Homo sapiens: one gene and its partners. The protein of the gene in region 3 purifies or fractionates together with the protein of the main gene of each other region. This does not show direct contact. Each region holds a gene or a part of one and is shown on either strand. Other genes may lie near its edges.

Evidence for each region.
Region 1: the proteins of ETFRF1 (region 3) and CCZ1 purify together in Homo sapiens (affinity purification with mass spectrometry, with the first as the bait; 2 studies listed by BioGRID). This does not show direct contact.
Region 2: the proteins of ETFRF1 (region 3) and NT5DC2 purify together in Homo sapiens (affinity purification with mass spectrometry; 3 studies listed by BioGRID and IntAct, with this or other methods). This does not show direct contact.

Annotation. Positions count from the first base shown.
Region 1 is NC_000007.14:5,915,727-5,922,748, reverse strand, and holds part of CCZ1 (vacuolar fusion protein CCZ1 homolog), read right to left. Parts: intron 3,883-7,022; coding exon 3,849-3,882; intron 2,901-3,848; coding exon 2,783-2,900; intron 1-2,782. UniProt on the Homo sapiens protein: Acts in concert with MON1A, as a guanine exchange factor (GEF) for RAB7, promotes the exchange of GDP to GTP, converting it from an inactive GDP-bound form into an active GTP-bound form.
Region 2 is NC_000003.12:52,530,842-52,538,720, forward strand, and holds the start of NT5DC2 (5'-nucleotidase domain-containing protein 2), read right to left. Parts: upstream 3,017-7,879; 5' UTR 2,897-3,016; coding exon 2,665-2,896; intron 1-2,664. Other genes in the region: UQCC5 (ubiquinol-cytochrome c reductase complex assembly factor 5), read left to right, coding at 5,915-6,065. UniProt on the Homo sapiens protein: Promotes dephosphorylation of tyrosine 3-monooxygenase TH which decreases TH catalytic activity and leads to reduced synthesis of catecholamines including dopamine, noradrenaline and adrenaline.
Region 3 is NC_000012.12:25,198,223-25,205,244, reverse strand, and holds the end of ETFRF1 (electron transfer flavoprotein regulatory factor 1), read right to left. Parts: exon of another isoform or gene 1,413-7,022; intron 1,326-1,412; 5' UTR 1,289-1,325; coding exon 1,238-1,288; intron 1,155-1,237; coding exon 933-1,154; 3' UTR 102-932; downstream 1-101. UniProt on the Homo sapiens protein: Acts as a regulator of the electron transfer flavoprotein by promoting the removal of flavin from the ETF holoenzyme (composed of ETFA and ETFB).

The sequences.
Region 1 (7,022 bases), on a different chromosome or scaffold from region 3:
TTCCCTCATATCATCCCCAGTGGACATCACTGTAAAACGCAGTCGCCTTTTCCACTGCAGTCTGATGAACATTTTAAATGGGATGTACCTTTTTATTTCTTAAACTGACTAGGCAGTGCTACGACGCTGCCTCCCAGGTCAGAGTCTGTGACCTCCTCGGGGACCTAGTGGGAAAAGCTGGGCCTCACTGCTCCTGGGGCCCCTCCCCTCCCCTCCCTGCACCCTCAGTGTCCACCCTGGGGCCTGGATGGGGCCTGAGCACAGCCCCGCCCCTGGGCTCAGAGGCCTCCTCTGCTTGCTTCAGGGTTAGCAGCCACGTTCTGGAGGGCTGGGGGTACCAGAAATCCGACCTCCGGACCAATGGGGTACTCATGAAATACTCTACGTCCAGGCAAAGAAAGAACGTGGAGGATTGAGTTTCCAGGAACATGTAAAGAAACTTCTTATAAAACCAGAATTTGTTTTCATAGTTCCCTAAGGTTAAGGAAAGTATAATGACAAGAAAAACTGTTTGGAAAGAGTTGTAAATTTAGTTGTCTGGGTAGACAAGGAACTTAAATCGGGTGTAAGCTTCTATCCTCAAAACACTCTGTGAGGCCAGGAGCAGTGGCTCACGCCTATAATCCCAGCACTTTGGGAGGCTGAGGCAGGCAAATCACTTGAGGTCAGGAGTTCGAGATCAGCCTAGGCCACATGGCGAAACCCCGCCTCTACCAAAAATACAAAAATTAGCCAGGCGTGGTGGCACACACCTGTAGTCCTAGCTCCCGGGGAGGCTGAGGTAGGAGGATCACTTACAGCCTGGGAGGTCAAGGCTGCAGTGAGCCATGATTGCACCACTGCACTCCAGCCTGGGCGACAGCAGGAGACCCTGTCTCCAAAAACAAACCCACAAAAAAACAAAACAGGTGACACGTTCTCTATGGTCACTACACTTTGTCACTTTCCATCTGTTAGTTGATAACCTGCATGATCCAAACCGATTTAACTCACTTTTGCCTCCTTCACAAAGGAAAACCTGGTATTTTCACGGCCAAAGGATTCAATGATTCAGCAGCACTGTCAAGATATAAGCTGTTGGCTGGGCATGGTGGCTCATGCCTGTAATGCTAGCACTTTGGAAGGCCGAGGTGGGTGGATCACCTGAGGTCAGGAGTTCAAGACCAGCCTGGCCAACATGGCAAAACCCTGTCTCTACTAAAAATACAAAAATTATTAGCTGAGTGTGGTGGCACACGCCTGGAGTCCCAGCTACTCGGGAGGCTGAGGCAGGAGAATTGCTTGAATGAACTCAGGGGCTGGAGGTTGCAGTGAGCTGAGATCATGCCACTGCACTCCAGCCTGGGTGAAAGAGTGAAACTCTGTCTCAAAAAATAAAAACAAAAAGCAACAAAGATGTAAGCTGTTGACAGCAGTAATCCACACACTGTTGTACAAAACCTAGAGGTGCTTTCACCTTTGCTCGCTTCTGCGCTCTTAGAGGCCCACGGTTATACAAGACCATGCAGAAATAACATATGGGCCGGGCGCGGTGGCTCACGCCTGTCATCCCAGCACTTTGGGAGGCCGAAGTGGGTGGATCACGAGGTCAGGAGTTCGAGACCAGTCTGACCAACATGGTAAAACCCAGTCTCTACAAAAATTAGCCAGGCATGATGGCACCCAGCTACTCAGGAGGCTGAGGCAGGAGAATCGCTTGAACCTGGGAGGCGGAGGTTGCAGTGAGCTGAGAACAGACCATTGCACACTCCAGCCTGGGCAACTGAGACTCTGTCTTAAAAAAAAAAAAAAAAAAAACCCAAAAAACAACGTATGAACATTAAGACCATGAGCGTATGCAGAAATTCACAGCCTTTTAGTAACTTCTCAAATGTGTAGAGAGCCCATTTAAAAGCAGGACTTCAACTTCGCAAAGTGCTTTCCATCGCCTCACTTTCACTTTATAATAACTATTTTATATTGAGAAAAGATAAGCATGGCCGGGTGCGGTAGCTCACACCTGTAATCCCAGCACTTTGGGAGGCTGAGGCAGGTGGATCACTTGAGGTCAGGAGTTCAAGACCAATCTGGCCAACATGGTGAAACCCCGTCTCTACTAAAAATACAAAAAGGAGCCGGGCATGGTGGTGCACGCCTGTAATCCCAGCTACTCAAGAGGATGAGGCATGAGAATCGCTTGAGCCTGGGAGGCGGAGGCTGCAGTGAGCCAAGATCAAGCCACTGCACACTCCAGCCTGGGCGACAGAGTGGGAATTTGTCTCAAAAAAAAAAAAAAAAAGCCAGGGAGAAAGAATTCAAGGACATTTCAGTGTCTAGAGAGCCGGAGGAGTGAATCCCGCCTCTCCCACTCAGTGTAGACACTTCAGGCTGCCAGACTGAGTACCCAGGCCCAGTGCCCCACATCCCAGCCAGTTTCCCCTACACATTTTCACACAACGAGAGGCAAAATGCTTTCAGTCTGTGCACACCAAGACCACGCCGATGACTACTGTCCAAGTGAACGTAACAATCTGGGCTGGTGAAATGGGACGTTCCATTCGGGGGGAGCTGAGGGAAGGTATTTACCAGAAGGCCCAGCCCCAGCTGCCAGCGTGGGGCAGAAACACTCAGGGTGACTGTCCCCGGGACCCTTTCAGACAGAGGCCTGAATGGCACGTAGCACCATCCTCTACAGTCCACGAGAACACAGGACTGTTAATACCACCCGTATTTGTAAGTGAAAACTACGTGTATTTCAAAAGCCGTTCAATGCCTGAAAGTGAACCGAAAGCAAAGTACAAACCCGGACATCCTCTTGTTGATGTTAAACTGTTCACAGATGTCAGAGGCCAGCACTGTGAGCTGGGGCCCAACGATGCTGTCCAGTCTTCGGCAAAAATCCAACGTTGGGTGGACAGAGGCTGGCAAGTCATGACAAAAAATACCAGTAAGATTCATTTTACTGTGCGACGCTGAACAACAGTATTCAAACGAAAACTTCACTGGTCTGGGAAAACAAACAATGAATGCTCAGGCCCCCTTCTGCTCCTCAAATAGAAGAGAAACAGAAGATAGAAAACCGGTTACATTTCAGATGAAAAAAGGGCGAAGACCTATCTCACCGTGAAAAGCTGACCGAGGCACACCCTGTAGGGTGGTAAACGGTTGCCTACCCCAGAAAGACCTCAGAAGGTCGTATGTTTATTTAACAAACATTACGTAGCACTCATGGGCCAGGTGCTTCACAGACATGACCTCATTCGATCCTCAGAACCCCCCCGAGAGAGGTACCACTGCTGTCTCCAGCTCGCAGTCGGTGGGACACAGAAAGATGCCCACACTCTACTGCTGACTAGCGGGAAAACTAGGACTTAAAAAATATGAGCACTGGCTAGTTAAGGAGACAGGGGGGTCCCAGATGGGGAACAGGGCTCCTCTCTATGCCTCTATATTGCTTATGACAACACATTTATCATTTAATGGGCTGGGTGTGGGGGCTCACGCCCGAAATCCCAGCACTTTGGGAGGCTAAGATGGGTGGATCGCTTGAGCCCAGGAGTTTGACACTAGCCCGGGCAACATAGTGAGACCCTGTCTAAACAAACAACCACAAAAACATTAGCTGGGTCCGGCGGTGTGTACTGGCAGTCCCAGCGACTTAGGAGGCCAAGGTGGGAAGATCACTTGAACCCAGGAGGTCGAGGCTACAGTGAGCTATGATCATGCCACTGCACTCCAAGAGTGAAACCCCGTCTCCAACAAAAAAAGCCCAAACAACCGAAACCCCCAAAACATATTTATCACTTAAGAATAGGATGCAGCAAAGTACAAAAAGCTTAGGCTGAAATCAGACAAAGGCGCGTACCCACCGTCGATCATAAAGCACACAGCCGCACTCATGGCCTGGGAAGACAGAACAAACCAGAGGTTATGAAATGGTGGAAAAAAGGAGACTTTCGTATAATAACAATCTGTTCAAAGTCAATGGGGAGAAGTCAACTGTAAGAAGCTGCTTTTTGGTCAACTAGAGCCATCTGGACACAGACTGCCCATTCCATGATGCGAGGGGAGTGCTGTTGACCTTGTCAGGTGTGACAGCGCCAGTGGGGAGGTTACCACGGATGTCCTCATCAGAGAGGCACAGGGAAGTGTTCGTGACTGACGTGATGACTTAAAATGCTCTTGCAAACCCGACAACACAACATGGAGAAGCAACGAAGACCAGAATCTTATTCACTTGTGTGATGGGGACTTAGGGGTTCACTGTTCTAGTCTCTCTGTGTATAGTCCAGAGAGAATAGAGAATTGGCAGAAACTGTCCATTATTCTGTGACGATTTCCATTGACACACGTTTACAAAGACAGCAAATGGATATCATCCTGTCTCACTTTATTATAGCAAGTAATTACAGTTATGACATTAGACCTAGCAACCGACAACAACCAGGACCACAGATAACCAAAAATGTTTAAAAGTTATCAAAGCAATGTATGGTTAAGAGAGGCTGAGCAGAACACCAGGCCTGATGATGAAAGCCACAGATTTCGTTCTCTGACCCTCCTCCCCGGCAACCACTTTACACTGTCATTAGACAACAGCGTTATCCTAACTCTTCAACGTATCCTCTTTGGGCATCGTACTGACTTCCTGCTCATGTCATGACAGGTGTGACCCCTCGTCTGCCTTCCCCCTCCTCCTCTATGGTTTATAGCATTCTATTTCCTCCGCTGGCCGCCTTCCACCAGCCACAGCCTCCGCTCCTGAACTCACATTCCCACCTGCCCCAGTACCTCTTCCCACTTCCGAGAGCGAAATCCTGTCTCAAGAGAAGAAAGATCTCAAATCAGTGACCTGACCTTTCGTCTTAAGATCCTGGACAACAGGAGTCAACTAAACCTAAAGCAAGTGGGGCCGGGTGTGGTGGCTCATACCTGTAAGCCCAGCACTTTGGGAGGCCGAGGTGGGCGGATCACCTGAGGTCAGGAGTTTGAGACCAGCCTGGCTAACATGGCAAAACCCCATCTCTACTAAAAGTACAAAAAAATTAGCCGGGCGTGGTGGTGCGCCTATAATCCCAGCTACTCAGGAGGCTGCGGCAAGAGAATCATGTGAACCTGGGAGGCAGAGGTTGCAGTGAGCTGAGACTGTGCCACTGCACTCCAGCCTGGGTGACAGAGCAGGACTCCGTCTCAAAAAAAACAAAAACAAAAACAAAAAAACCCAAACAAACCTAAAGCAAATGGAAGGAAATAATAAAGCATGAGAGCAGAAACAAACTCAACAGAGAAAAATCACAGAGATAATAAATGAAACCAAAAGTTGTTCTCTGAAAAGACCCAACATTGAAAAACTTTTCCTTTTTCTTGTGAAGATTCCAGAAGTATGAAGAACCTTTAGCTAGACTATACAACAAGGAACAAAGAGAGAAGACTCAAATTACTAAAACCAGGAATGAAAGAGGAGACATCACTACTGACTTTACAGGAAAAACGAAGGAGTATCCGGCTTTACCTACAATACCATGAAAAACCACGTGCCGACAAATCAAATAAATTAATTGAAGCTGACAAATTCCTAGAAAGACACAAACTACCAAAGCTGACTCAAGAAGAAACAAAATCAAAATAAACCTGTAACAAGTACAGAGATTAACCCATTTATGCTGGAGGTTGTAAATCTTTTTTGTGAAAAATGAGACCTTGGCAATGACCTTCAGCAGGATATAAATAACTCTCACAAGCTTAGTGTTCCAATAATGGAACACTGGGCATAAATGGTTAACTTTAAAATTTGCCACAAAGAAAAGCCCAGGTGCAGAGAGCTTGACTGTGAATTCTATGAAACATGTAAAGAGGAATTAACACCAATTTTTCACTGTCTTCCAAAAAAATAGGAGGGAACATTTCCCAACACATTTTATCAAGCCAGCATTGCCCAAAGATATCACAAGAAAACAAAACTACAGGCCAATATCCCTTACACCCAAGCCCGCACAGCACCCGCTCCACCTCTGGAGGGCTGGAGACTAAGGCTGGCCATGTGGGGCCAGCTGTGTCTCTGTGGCCAACCCCCAATCAAATCTCTGGATCTCGAGGCTCAGGTGAGCTTCCCTGGATGTCAACACTCCATAGAGACAGCCACACATCCTCGATGGGGAAACACTCACTGGGCTGTCCACATGACCCCAACGGGAGAGGACAGCCGGAAGCTCACACCAGAGTGGGACTCCATCTCAAAAACCAAAAAACCAAAAAAAAAAAAAACAAAAAACAAAACAAAAACCCAAAAAACCAAACCAACCCAAACCAACCTAAAGCAAATAGAAGGACTCCTGGTCCTTCCATTGGTGGCTCCTGCGCCCTGCCCCACACGCCTCTTCCCCGGGCTGATTTTAACCTGTATTCTTCCACTGTAATAAACCGCAGCTGTGAGTGCCGCCATTCTTCCTTCCCCCTGGTTTTGTTTCCCATGGTTTCTGTTATGTGAGGGACAGTATAATAAAATATTGAGGGAAGGGGGAAGCAAACCGCATTCACATGACTTTTATTGCAGTAGAGTGTCATCGTCCAATTATGATTACTATTACTTGTTTTGAGATGGGGTCTCACTCTTGTCCAGGCTGGAGTGCAGTGGCACGATCTTGGCTCACTGCAACCTCCGCCTCCCAAGTTCAAGAGATTCTCCTGACTCAGCCTCCTGAGTAACTTGGATTACATGTGCATGCCACCATGCCTGGCTAATTTTTCTATCTATAGTAGAGGCAGGGTTTCACCACACTGGCCAGGCTGGTCTCAAGTTCCTGGCCTCAAGTGATCTGCCTGCCTCGGCCTCCCAAAGTGCTGGGATTACAGGTGTGAGCCACTGCGCCCAGCCTTATTAATCGCTTACTGTACTGAATTTATAAACATTATCACAGGCATGTATGTACAGGAAAAAACACAGCAAGTGAAGGGTTTGGTACTGTCCCCGGTTTCAGGCACCTCCCGGGGGTTTTGGAACACATGGCCTTTGGCTCGGGGGTACTGCTGTAGAAAGCCTTTTC
Region 2 (7,879 bases), on a different chromosome or scaffold from region 3:
CTGTCCCCAATTTCCCAGTGTCCCTCCAGAAGCAGGGGCTGCAGGGAGAAGGGAGCAGGCAGGACTAGATGTACAGGGTACATCTAGTACCCCTGCCTTGCAGGGGCCCCAGCTCTAAGACTCCAGGGGATCCCTGTCTCAGCCACAACCCCAGTGCCGATGACAAAGCAGGAGCTGCCAGGCCAGAGGGCCAGGGAAGCCCCACAGTGTGCCTGGCAGCTGCTGCACTCAAGAGGCAGACATCTCGCTGATGTGCTCCGTGCCCAGAGCACTTGCCTCAGAGGCACTCTGGGGACACAGGGCTCCATTCCCACCCCTTTCCTTTGGAGCCAAGTTCAGGGTGTGGGTGGGGGATCAGGTGTGGCTGGTTCCCCAGGCCAGCACAGAGCGGCTGCTCCGAAGATCTGTGGGTGTAGACAGGAGTCTTCACTTGGATGCAAGTGAGACAGTTGACTGCAACGCTCTAGGGAGCTGCTTCTGAGCCACCCCTCAAGGCCCAGGGTTCTGGTGTGTCACTAGGACCCTGGGCCTTGCCCTTCCCATGGCCCTGAGTTCCCGGATACCAACTGTGACTGTGACTCTTGGTGCAGAAGACCTGGGAGGGTCTGCTCGGCAGTGCAGCCCCTTGCTGGCACAGAGTCCTGGTTAGGTCCAGGCCTTCACCTCTGCCCCTAAGGATGTTCCCAGGGGCCCAGGGGCAGACAGTCCTCCCAGGAACAAAGCAGGATGTGGAAACAGCCACAGGGCCTGGTGGCCTGGCCTGATTTCTAGACTAGAAGAACCTTGGCTCTGGGGCGACAGAAGCCTGTTCCCTTCCATAGGTGGTGTGGGTGGGGGGTGGGGGTGGGGCAGCTGAGGGTGTGTCCCACTCAGCATGTCCAGCAATTGCCCTCCTTTCTCCTCAGCCCTAGCTCCCACACCTGCCCATGGTGCCAGGTCCCAGGGCCAACTGCTCCCTAGCAGCCGTGACACTTGTGGATGCCTTAGAGGCTTGTCTTGTTCAATCCTCACTCCCATCCTGTGAGGCAGTCCCACTTATTCCCCCATCGTCCGGAGGAAGAAACTGGGGCTCAGGGAGGTGAAGTCACTTGCTCCAAACCACCCAGTAACAGGCACCGGGGTTGAGATCACCATTCAAGTCACCCCACCTGCATTAATCACTCTGCCTCTCAGCCTAGCCTCCCAATGTCACCACACTGAGGCCAGGTGGGTGGGGGCTGGGGGACTGAGGGACCTGTTGCACTGCTCTCAGCCCGTGGGCATTAGCCCAAAGCGGACCTCGGCGCCCAGAGGTGTGAAGCTGGCTCCTGCTGGTGCTCACCATGGGATCTTGGTGGGAATGACTTTGCTCCTTGTATGACAAGAGGAGCTTAGAGGGCTGTGAGGCTCCAAAGATGCAGGCAGGCCCAGGAGGACAATGTCCAGTAGATCCCCGTAGTCCTCCCTGAAACCTCCAAGGCAGGCTTCTCAGGATACTCTGAGGGTCTTCTCCGGGCCCAGAGCAAAGACTTCTTAAATAACGCTGGGCCGCCCCTCCACAGACACAAACTCAACCTGGGACCTCGAGGGTGGACAGATGCCCAAGGCTTCAAAATGACCATTCCTCAGGGGCCTTTACCATCCTGCCTTTACTGGTCAAGAAGTGATTCTCCGCCACCCCACAAAGCCGGAGTGAAAACCCCTGTCTAGCCAGTTAGAATCTTCCAGACAGGGCTACTTTGTTTTATCAGACAACAAAAGCCACGTCACCCCTGGGGGTTCCTCCGGAAGCTCTCCTGCCCTGCTTGGCCTGGTTCCAGTCATCACCCAACCCTGGGACAGAGAGGCCCCAGGACTGCGTTTCATGCTTGAGAGAGGGTGAGACTTGCTGGGGGACCACCCAACTGGTCAGTGATAGGGTCACGACCCAAACCATATCTGTCTGCTGCAGAAGCAGGGCCCCACTAGACCCACGGAGACAAGCAGGCAGATGTCCAGCACTCTCAGCTCTGGGGCCTCACTAGTGCGCCCCAGCCGGCCCCCTCCAAGAAGGGGCCTCAGCCTCCTCACGCCATTTCTCAGAGGGAGAGAGCAGGGACAGGGAGGTTAAGTGCCCTTTGCAGCCCTAGTCTGGGCTCCAGGGGGCGGGGGTGACTTGGCTTCTCCCAGCCTTCGCTGCCCGGGCTGAGAGGGGGCCGGACCTCCAGGGCGACATCGAGGTGTGTCTGGGAAGTCCAACCGGTGTCCCCTTTGGTCCGGCCGTCCCTAGGAGCCCGTTCCGCCCGGCGCCGCTCGCTGGCTTTGTCCACAGCACTCTCCCGCCCCAACTAAGGGTTGGCCGAGAACAAGGGGTTGGGGGCGTTTCCACCGCGGCTTCACGGCAGGCGGGACCCCGAAGGAAGTCGGCGGGGGCCCAGCACTCCGGCAGCCGCTCGAGGAGCCCCGAGCTCCTGCAGACCGAGCCGGGGAACAAACCTCCCGCCCGCCCCCGGGCGTCGGGGCGCCCCAGAGGCCCCCGGGATGAACGGCCGGAGCTTCTCGCGAAAAGCCGCCCGGCCCTTGCGCTCCGGGGCCCTGGCGAGCCCCACTGGGTGTTTCCCCGGAGGAGCGGCACCCTGGGGCTCGGTCCGTCCATCAGTCCACGCGGAAGACACCCCGGCGCACGTCCCGCCCCGGCTCACCCACCGTGCACCAGTCTCCGCATGTCCTGGTAGCGAGCCCATAGGTGCGCGCTGAGGTCGGCGCCGCTGGTGGGTGCCTGGGCGGGCGCGGAGCGCGGGACGCCGGGGCAGTGGGCGCCGGGACCCGGGGGGCCGCACCCAGGGCAGGAGGGCGAGGACGAGGCGGCTCGCGGCCCGCCGTGGCCTCCGCACAGCAGCCAGCGCCGAGCGGCCGCCCGCAGCCCCGCACCCGCCATGCCCACCGCGCGCCGCCCGCCGCCCGCGCTGCCCTCGGCCAGCCCGCCGCCCGCCGCCCGCCGCCCTCCGACTGCGCGCCCGCCACGGTGGCCTCGTGCTCCTCACGGCGGCCGGCCAATGGGTGCGGCGCGCGGAGCCCGGCCTGCCAATGGGCGCGCCCCTCGGCCCGGGGGGCGGGAGGCCCCGGACCCGGCGGGGCGGGGCGGGGCGGGGAGGGCTCCCCAGCCCCCTCCCCCAGCCAGTCTCCGGCGCGGTCCGGGAGGACTCTGCGCCCCCCTTCGGCCGTCACGCCGGCGATGGCGGCGCCTTTCCCTGGCCCCAGCCCTGGAAGTCAGCGGGCCTAAGAGCGGCCGTCCCTGAGAGGCTCCGGACGGCCGAGGCGCCGAGAGGAGACAGCCGGAGCGCGACGGGTACCCCCCGGGCCCCCGGGTCCTCTGCCGCCCTCTCCGCTCCCGGGTCCGCCCGCCCTACCCTGCGCCTCTGGATGCTTCTGACCCCAGATCCTCCGCTCCTCCCCCTAGTCCTGGTGCTCTCCTTTCCCGGGGTCCTGGTCCCCGGTCTCTGGGCTCGGACTGACTGCCCACTGACCAGAGCCCGGGCCAGTCCACTCACTGGTCTAACAAATAAAGAGCCCTTCCCGCGCTTCCCGGTGCCAGGCCCACGCTGGGGGAGGCCGAGGGGCCTGCAGGGCAGCCGACGTCCGCTAACCAGGTGACTGGGCCGTGCGCTGCAGGGTTGTGGGCCACGGTCACTGCGCCCGCTTGGTTCGGACCTCGGCAACTGGCCGCACTGACCCGTCAACTCCCGGTTTCCCGGCGCACGCCCCTCGTGAGATGCTGTGGTCTTTTCTAGCAACGTCGACAGGCTTTCCAACAAAATTCCTCTTTCCTGCGCAGAACCGCTCTCCACTCGCATTTCTTCTGCTCAGATCCGTATTCCGAGCCCGCACGCATACCAGGCTGTGCTCAGGGTCCGGAGGAGGCCGACCCAGTAGCCGTGGGCCCTGTCGGAGGGGAGCCAGCTGGGCGCGCGTTGTTTTCTGAGGTGGCCGCGCTGTCTTTCAGGGTGTGTGTACATTCGAAACTCCACTGAACCTTGATTGAAGACCTACAGTGTGGCAGTCCATGGCCTGGGGACTGGTAAGGATTGAGGCCGTAGGATGGGCTCGAGTGTGGCGGTGTCCCCAGGGCCCCAGTGAGCAAGTGGGTGTGCTGGGAACCTGGCCACAAGTGAACCTCCTCCAGGCGAGGGGATGCCCTGCAGCATCCAGCCGTCAAAACCTCCTGTAGAAACGGGAGCGAGCATCAAGCCTGTGTGTGTGCATGCTTGGGCGGAGTCTACCCGGAGGAGAAAGAGGCTTCCGGGCTGGCCCTCCAAAGCCGGTTGTACAGGCGGCAGCTCAGGCTGCTCACTGCGGGCCCTATGACCCTTTCTGGGGCCCTGCTTGCTCTCTCCAGTCTGCTTTTGTATATTTTGTGTCCATATCACCAAATCGTCTCATTGGTTCTAAGCTTTCATTTACCTTCCTTAGATTGTCTAATAGTTGTCTCCTTTCTCAAAGCTGTTCCTGCAGTTTTTACTTTAGTCCTAGGTAATGGGGTGACAGCCCCTTTCAGTTATCTTCAGCAAGCACAGCAGCATGAGAAGACGCAATTACAAGTGAAGTCTCTTAAGTCAGAGCCCTGCTTCTACCTGGCATAGTCTCTTAAACTGTCAGTTAAGAGACTACATATAAACAATACACGTTCAGACTCGGCGCGGTGGCTCACGCCTGTAATCACAGCACTTTGGGAGGCCAAGGCAGGAGGATCTCTTGAGCCCAGGAGTTTGAGACTAGCCTGGCCAATATAGTGGGACCCCCATCTCTACAAAAAATTAAAAAATTAGCCGGGCGTGGTGGTGCACGCCTGTAGTGGTGGGAGGATGGCTTGAGCCGGGGAGGAGGGGGTTGCAGTGAGCCGAGATTGCGCCACTGCACTTCAGCCTGGATGACAGAGCGAGGTCCTGTCTCAAGAAACAAACAAAAACCATGTTTGGGAATACATGTGAAGAGCGAGGGCTCTGCCAATCATTATCATCATAATGAATATTCTAACTAATATTAATCAGTTACTATGCTCCAGGGTTGTGTTCAGTGCATCATTCCTATTACCGCACTAAATTATCACAGCGTCAGAACAAGGCCTCCGTTTTACGGCTTAGGGAATTGAGGCACAGATGGGCTAAGGGAGCACCTGTAGAGCAGGGATGTGGTTTGGTAACAGAGTGCATGCTCTTTATACTGCTCTTCTGCGATTATTGTGAATAAAGCGCCTACAAGTGCCTGTGGAACTGTAAGTGCCCCATACAAGATAGCTTTTATTAATTTTAGGGTTCTCACGGGGCGCTTACTTAGATTTTTGCTGTGATAATTGATAAAGTTCAGCTTTCAACACTCCATATCAAATTCTGTTACTTTAGAAGTCTAGGCACCAATCACGTCTCCGAAATAAACGCAAGGCATTGCATAATTGCATTTTGGAATGTGGTGCTGTACATAGTCCATCAGAGAGGGTCATCACTTCTATCTGGGTATTAGGAATAAAAATGGCGGTGGCAGAGTAGGGGGCGCGGCTGCCAACTGCGAGCTCAGACCTGCACTGGGGAGGCAGGGGGCGGGGCCGGGCCGGCGCCACGTGGGCTGTCCTTCCCTTTTGGGCCGTCCCACCTCCAGAGCTGAGGCGCCTGCGCCAGCTCCTTCGAGGCCCTGCTCGGCTTCAGGGAGCACGCGCGCCCTGCCGTGCTCTGATTGGCGGAGCTGCACGCCCCCGCTGCAGTCTGATTGGCGGATCCGCCTCGCTTTAGAAGGTCGGCGCCCAGTTCCGGCACTCGTGCGCCTACCAGACAGTGGCGGAGGACGGCGCTCGCTAGTCTCCCAGGTCGCGGTACACGGCGAGAACGGGCGGGGCGGTCTCGGCTGCGTCCGGGCGATCCAGTGCTTAGTTCCGTCATATCCCTCTCCACGACCTCGGTCGAGCATGTTCACCAGGGCCCAGGTGAGACGGATTCTGCAGCGGGTGCCCGGGAAGCAGCGATTTGGCATCTACCGGTTCCTGCCCTTCTTTTTTGTCCTGGGAGGAACGATGGAGTGGATCATGATTAAAGTGCGCGTGGGCCAGGAGACCTTCTGTAAGTGAGGGGGTAGCAGTCTCTGTTTCCTTTCAGGAAGGCACGAGGCGGTAGGGATCCGTTTTTCTGGGGAGTATTCTCAGATTGCAGACCGCGCATTCCACTCAGAGCGCTGGGCGAGTGCAGTTCCATTCGCTTGGCAGTCAGGGCGGCCTGGCTCTCCTGTAGGCCGGGCACATTGGCGTCCAGCCTTGTGACCTTCCCTGCACTTACAGGCGAGATCACGTGCTTCTTCCAGCCCTCTCATGCCTGCCCTTCACCCCTGCCGGTGACATCGTTTGGGCTTAAGGAACAGACTTGCTCACAACAATCGTAGAAGGGGGTGGATATGAGGGGTCAGGGAAACTCCTGCTAACTAGCCATTTCTCTTTGGATTCTTCTGTCCAAACTCTGGAGGGAGCTGATCTGCCTGGCTTTGCTAATTACCACTACCTTTACAGGACAGTCATTGGCACCAGGTCTTTGGTCTGGGTCCAGATGATCAGCACTGTAAAGATAGTGGTAACGCCTGGCACTGCATTACTGAGCATTAACTCTGGACAGGCCAGTTCCTTTCAGGAGGACTTCCCCAACCCCTCGGCCCTTTCTGCTTTGCCCCTCTCCTGAAACGCTATCACTTGTGACTTGCCAACCCACATTTTAAAGAATTGTTACATTAGTGATTCCTAAAGATCCTTAGTCCTTCTGTTCATCCATTCATTGATACTTAATGAGCATTCTTGAGGGGCTATAATGAACAAGGCAGAGGTGTCCCTTACCCCAGAAGAGCTCTAATGGGAAAGAAGATGATAAAGACAATTAGCATACAAAGTGATCAGTGCTGTGAGAAGGAAGTGGGAGGAACATAGGACTCTCGGGTGGGCGCCTCAACTGGACTAGATGGTGCAGGGAAGGCTTCCGGAAGCAGCTACCAAGTAAAGTAGGACCTGAAGACTGAGTAGGTGTCAGTCAGATGAGGGGAAGGTGTGTGGAATTGAAAGCATCTCCATGGCAGTGGTAGGAGCACTTGTGTGAGAGTATGCTGTGTGTTTGAGGGATTGAAGCAGATCAACAAAGTGGGGATGGCTAGAAGGGTGCCTGGGCAGGGTGGCAAAGGGACTGGAGAACCAAGAATGGATCCCAAGGATTGAGTCATTTTAGGGAGAGGCTTTAACATGTGGAGAATGGCTCCTTGTGGACAGATTGGTAGGAACAGTTACGCTGTATGGCTGTCCAGAGTTGAGACAGTGGCCTGGTCTAGGTTGGGGCAGAAAGGATACCAAGAAGGGATGGAAGTAAAAGACAGCCCAGAGGTAGTACTGACAGGGCATGGTGATTAAGTGGACTCAGGAGATGAGGAGTGGAGGCTTCTGGTGGGACACCTGGGGCAGGGGGTAGTGCATTTCCTGAAGGTGCCGAACACAGGCAGGGCCATCCTGGGCACCATCTGGGACGTGACGAGGTAGATATGGTTATACAGAGCTGAAGCTCAGGAGGCAAATCTGGGCCAGAAATTGGGATTTGTGAACCATTCAGAAGCAAATTATGATGGAAGTCAAATCCCAACATTTTAATTTAATTTATTTATTTTTTGAGACTGAGTTTCGCTCTTGTTGCCCAGGCTGGAGTGCAGTGGTGCGATCTTGGCTCACCGCAACCTCTGCCTCCCAAGTTCAAGTGATTCTCCTGCCTCAGCCTCTGGAGTAGCTGGGATTACAGGCATGCACCACCACGCCCGGCTAATTTTGTATTTTTAGTAGACATGGGGTGTCTCCATGTTGGTCAGGCTGGTCTAGAACTCCTGACCTCAGGTGATCTGCCCACCTTGGCCTCCC
Region 3 (7,022 bases):
ATGAGTGTGTATTTATTCATGAAATTTGAACTGTTTGCCCCGAAATGGATATGGAATACTTTATAAGCCATAGACACTATAGTATACCAGTGAATCTTTTATGCAGCTTGTTAGAAGTATCCTTTATTTCTAAAAGGTGCTGTGGATATTATGTAAAGGCGTGTTTGCTTAAACTTAAAACCATATTTAGAAGTAGATGCAAAACAAATCTGCCTTTATGACAAAAAAATAGGATAACATTATTTATTTATTTCCTTTTATCAAAGAAGGTAATTGATACACAACAGGTGACTTGGTTTTAGGCCCAAAGGTAGCAGCAGCAACATTAATAATGGAAATAATTGAATAGTTAGTTATGTATGTTAATGCCAGTCACCAGCAGGCTATTTCAAGGTCAGAAGTAATGACTCCATACATATTATTTATTTCTATAACTACATTTAAATCATTACCAGGAACTGTTTGTTTTGTAGTGAACCTTGAGTATGTGCTGTTAATATACCAAATTGGGTGAAAAAATAAGGGATTCCTTTCAAAAGTTAAGAGAAGTAAGTGTGTAAGAAATTATTTTGCTTATTAAATGTTCGGTAAATGGCATTCTCTTGTCAGTAAAATGGAGAAATAAGCTAAAAATAATTGGCTAAGTCCTATTAAGTTAGAGGATTAAGTGTATTATATTTTCATTCAAAATTGGGTGCTCATTAATTTATGATCGGTAGTATAGCTAAATTGCTATGTTTGTATCAAAATTGAGCATAAAGTTGCTGATACTTTCTCCGTATGAACAGAAGTTGAAACCTATTTAGTTCAGTAGGGCAGCTCAGGGATTTTTTACACAACATGTATATCTTCCCATTTTAAGTTAGAATTATTTTACAACATCTGGTATACATAAACAGCTGGCACTGATAGCTAAATTAAAGTAGTAATGATCAATTAGTTTTGTTGGTATCTGAATAATAGCGTTGTTTCATAGCTCTGTATTTCCTAAGGAAGTACAAAGCTTCTAGCTCTTTCATTACAAATTCGCCCTGTGCAATAAGTTCTTTGATCTTCTCTGGATTCTTCACATCTTTGTTTTTAAGGAAAATGTTCTTCAAACGCTTTTTAAAATAGTCTGCTCCTTTTGGATAGTCTCGTCCAAGATACAGCAGCTTCAAAAAGAAAGATTATATATTTCTAAACAATCCATGTCATATAATAACATTTTTATAAAATTGGCAACATAATTACTTACATTTTTATAAAGTTTTAGTACTTCTCCTCTTAAAGAATTGGCCATTTTCATTTATCATGTAAATTATCCACTTTTATGCATAACATACCTAAAGAAAGGAAAATTTTTTTGCAATTAGCTGCATTGTAGTCTTAAAAAAATAAAAAAAGGTTATACACATTGAGAAAATGGTAACCTTTTTTACATTCAATAAATATTTCTTGATAACTTTTTCGTTCCACGTACTGGGATATAGTTATAAACACTTCCGATAAAATTACCTGCTGTCATAATTGACGTTTTCCTATGGGAGACATAAGCAAAGACAATTGTGATTGTGAGAAGTCACATGAAGGAAATGAGAAAGTGGATTGTCATCACAGATAGGTACGTGTACCTCCTTTTATGCCACAGTGGAATGAGTTAAACTAGATTTAAATTCCAGTTGCATAATGTACAGATTAATTAACCTTGCTGAGCCTGAGTTTTCCTTATCAACAAACAAGAGATTATCTTTACCCTGCTCTCAAGGCAAGGCCAGAGCCACTTGAAGGACATTGAGCAGAAGCCTGATCAAATGCTGATGGGTGCTTATCCAAAGGGAGGCTGAAAACTAGCAGAAACTGGGTGAGTTAAGCAGGTTGGAATAGTAGATGGGCAGTAAGATTGGTGGTGAAGAGGCCAAATGAACAACCTGTAAGAGGGTGTCCCTGAGGAACAGGCAAAATCATGCTTCTTTATGTGTAATGTGTTAACTCTACTTTGTAGAGGAGGCTCCAAACTTAAAGGCATCATGACAGTCTAAACCTAGAAAATAATTCCCACTACCTGTTAGAGTTGAATAGTAAGCTCTTAACATTGCATCCTATCAGGTGGATGCAACTGCAATTTGTTCCATTGTGATTGATAACTTTGATTACCCAATTAATGTATTTGCTAAGATTGTCCATTGTAAAATTATTTCTCCAAGGAACCTAGTCCTTTTAATGGAGAATAGCATTTAGAAACTATAATCTGGATGGAATGCTTTAGAAACCAAGGTCTGGGTGCTAAAAATGCTAATCACCATGGGACTGTCACTGTTCCCAGGTCCTCTAAGTGACAAAGCTGCAAGTGTATATACATACGGATTTAGGTGTTGTATGTGTGTATGACTTTTATATTAATCTCCATATAATCTGCTACCTAACATTCAATTCCAATACTACAGGGTTTATTTTCATTTCCCCTCTTTACATGGGTTTAATACTCTTGCTGAACAGTGAGAAGTCTGGTTCCCACTTGTCCTTAATAAATTTACTTTTTATAATCATCACCCCTTCTCTCACTATGTAATCAAAATCCTCTTGCTGTCACCATTCGGCGCACACACTCTACTCTCTGAGCTCTGCCACCTAATGCCAGAGTGCCACTGCCACCATCCCACATGCATGGTCTTCTCTTCCCCCTTTCCCCCAACCTACCCTTCTTGGGCTCAAGCAACTTACACTGCACCATTTCCTCCCTCCTGGGTAAGGCTCACCTTTTGTTCCCATTCCAAAAACCTGTGCCACCATTTCCTTCACCCTAATAGGATGCCCTCCTCATCCCCTGCTAGGCTGCTGCTGTGCACAAGTCCCTACCCCCAGAGGCCCTCCTCACTGCATTTGGGCTCCAGTATCCCCTGCTGGGCTACTACCTTGCCAGCCTTTCTCTCGCCCCCACCTTCCCCAGATGCCTGCCTTGCTCAGCCCCACGTAATGACTTTTGGACTGAATTACTCTGATAGGCAAGCAGGAAGCAACTTTTTTTTTTTTGAGATGGATTCTTGCTCTGTCCCCAAGCTGGAGTGCAGTGGTGCCATCTCAGCTCACTGCAACCTCCACCTCCCTGGTTCAAGCAATTCCCCTGCCTCAGTCTCCCCAGTAAGCTGGGACTACGTGTGCGCGCCACCACGCCTGGCTAATTTTTTTTTTTTTTTTTTTTGTATTTCAGTAGAGACGGGGTTTCACCATGTTGGCCGGGATGGTCTTGATCTCCTCACCTTGTGATCCACCCACCTTGGCCTCCCAAAGTGCTGGGATTACAGGCGTGAGCCACCGTGCCCGGCCGCAACTTATATTTTTAAAATAGGCTTTTAGATCAGTTTTAAGGGTTATTTTATAGTTAACTAGCAGAAAATGTGGATTAAAATTACAGTACCATACTCAATTAAAAATCATGCGCTACATAATTTAAGTTCTCCTGTTAACTTCTGTTTGGGTTGAACCCCGAAGTACAATAGTGTAGATTCTCATTGTGACCTCACCTGCCCCTTTAGGCATTTTGCAAAATTTACACCTTTTACAATTTGAAAGGCAGGGTGCCAGTGCCTTCATGTATTTCATTTAATCTGAAATTTTTATACGTATTAGACATAGAAACTGCATAAAATATGAATGTACAAATTAAAGTAAAATATACATCTGGGTACCCATCATTCAAGTTATGAAACAAAAGTCTTAGAAGCCCCCATGTGCCCCTCTCCAATTGCTTCTCCTTCCCCATCTCTACCAAGATAGCCTCTAATGACTTCCTGCTTATTCTCTTTAGTTTTCCCAGCACTCATGAACATTGCCCTAAATATTTAATTTTGGCAATTTGAGCAGCAAGCACGAATCTAGCAAGGAAAAGGGCAACAATGCTGCTGTTAATTAAAGCCAAACAGCCCTAGTCTGGCTTTACCTTCTCCAGGCTTTCTGGATCCCTTCTAGAGAAGTTAATTTGCAATGTCATGAGTGAATACTGGGCTCCTCACAACTGAAGCATGTGGAAAGATCAAAGTGTAGAATTGATACCTGATTTCTGGCCAATACATAGCAAAAATGGGAAGGAGGAAGGCTATTTTCTGCTTTAAGCTCACCAACGCCCAACATCAGCTTTCAGGAATAGGTTGAAAAAGAAGGGTAAAAATGAGTGTCCTCAGTTGGTCCAGTCAGCACAGCACAGAAGAGAGCAGGAATTTCATCACCACATGGTCAAGACAAGGCAAATACCGGTAAGAATCTGAGCCAGGCTTGCCTGGGCATAATGTCCTCAGATTAAAAAGATGATACAATGGCAGCAGGGATCTTAGTGATAATAGCCATCAATGTGAGTCATGCTGCTTGATTCTGGACTGACTGCTCTCTACATCAAGAAGCACAACTGTGGTGCTGGAATCCTACTTGACCATGCTCCCAGAAATTCCTCTTGCCTATCCTCTATGTTGATTATCCCATTTTCTACATTCCAAAGTGTTCCATTTCCTGGTTTTATTTTTGTTTCTGTGGAGCACATCCTAACTTCTTGAAAAGGGTACATGGAAGGTAAATGAGACCCTGGATGTCTAAAAATGGCTGGCTCCCTCTATCTGTTTGATAGCTTGTCTGAGTATAGAATTGAAAGCTGGAAATAATTTTCTTTTCAACATTTTGAAGTAGTTGCTCGTCTGTTTGCTTTTACCATTGCTATTAAGTTCAAAGCAGTCCTGGTAAGTGATCCTCTGTATGTGATGTATTTTTTCTCTCTCTCCCCAGAAACTTACAGAATCTTCTCCATGAAGATTTTGAAATGTTAGTGATGTGTTGATAATGGATTTATTTTTATCCATTGTACTGGACACTCAGTTGGCCCTTGCAATCTGGACACTTGTTTCCTTCAATTTGGGAAAAAATTTTAAATGATTTCATTCATGATTTCCTCCCTCCTCCATTTTCTTTTTTCTCCCTTCCTGGAACTTTTATTATTTGGATGTTTGAACTTCTAAACATGTTCTCTTCCTTTTTTCTGTACTATTTTCCATTTGTCTTTTTTTTTTAAGCATGGAGTTTCGCTCTTATCACCCACGCTGGAGAGCAATGGCCTGATCTCAACTCATTGCAACCTCCGCCTCCTGGGTTCAAGTGATTCTCCTGCCTCAGCCTCCCAAGTAGCTGGAATTACAGGTGCCTGCCACTAAGCATGGCTAATTTATGTATTTTTAGTAGAGATGGCTTTTCACCATGTTGGCCAGGCTGGTCTCGAACTCCTGACCTGAGGTGATCCACTCTCCTTGGTTTCCCAAAGTGCTGGGATAACAGGTGTGTGCCTCTGCGCCCAGCCTTTTATTTAGTTGTATGGGGGATTTTCTCATTTTCTTCTTCCAAGTGTTCTACTGAGTTGTTCATTTCTGCTCTTCCTGGACAGTTAATTTTGACCACTCAGATTGCTCTCAGCATAGCTGGAGACTACTATAGAGATGTTAAAAATACTCAAAAATTATAATAGAGTAGCCTGGGAATGGGAGTAGGGGCTGGAGACCAGGAAGGAATCAAAGATGCACAAGGCAACCTTTGTGGATAGTGGATATATTTATTGTCTTGATTGTGGTGATGGCTTCATTGTGTGTGTGTGTGTGTGTGTGTGTGTGTATGTATACATATATGTATATATACAAATCTATATAATTAGTATAGATACTATATAGTATATAGTATGTAGTTTTCCCACCACTTAGCCCTGTTCTTAGACTTTTGCTGGCATTTCTATTACTTGCAAAAATATATTAAAATATATATTGACAAACAGAGGTAGCCAGCCATTTTTAGTATATAGTATACTATGGTATATATATCTACCATATACTACATAGTATGTACTATGTAGTACATATATAGTTATGTACTATATATATTACTATATACTACATAGTACAGTATGTACTATATGTACTATATGTACTATGTAGTACATACTACGTAGTATATAGTAGATATATATAGTATATAGTACATAGTAATTCCTTTTATTTTTGTTTCTATGGAAACAAAAATATGTATACTATATATTATACTATATGTAGTATATATTATAGCACATATATATCTATAAATATGCATATATAGATGTGTATATATATGAACCAAATTTATCGAATTATACTTTGTAAGTGTAATTCAGTGTCAATTCTACTTCAGCAAAACTTAAAAAAATAATAGAAATGCCAGCCAAAGTCTAAGAACAGAGCTAAGAGATGCTGAAATAACACATGGAAGTAGAAATCCATCTAAACCACAAGGCTGCCAATTCGTGGGTAGGATAGGTGACTCTACCTGTCCTCAGTCGATGGCTACACAGAACTTGGGGTATGCCTCTCTGGGGAAGGAACCCTGGAATATACACTTGAATCAATGAAAAAATCTGAAAGACACTTGCCGCCAGCATAGCAGTGAAGCCATGACCTTTTCTTAACTGAAGGTCATACATTTACTGCTTTTCTGGCTCCTCTTTCCTAGGGAAAAAAATACTTCTACATTAATACTTGTTAAATTGTACTTACTACTAGTTAATGAGCTAATTCACATAACAAGCATATTATGTAGGCATTTTTTCTTTCCAAGTTCACTGATTCTTGCTTTCTTGAAATTTTCTGTTGTTTTACTTCAAATTGCTTTTCTGCTTGCTTTTGTCTCTTATCACTTCTGAGCTGTTTTACTTCAAATTGCTTTTCTGCTTGCTTCTGTCTCTATCACTTCTGAGCTTTCTTCCAAAGTCTGGTCATTCTTTTCTGTCTACTCTTATGAATGAAAAGACAAAAAAGCTTTTTAGATCTGTATACGTGGGTGAAGCATATAGACTCTGGGCTTCACTTAGGGTGCTCTGGGTGGGCCTTTACTGGGGAACCTCTGATGTCACTATCTTGGATTGCTCCTCCTGGGCTGGTCAGTTCCTCAGAGTTGAGTCTTCCAGTCTTCTAAGGATAAGAGGAATGCGGGCCCTGCATCCAGCATTATGTATTCCTAAATTCACTTAACTTTGTTTCCAGTGT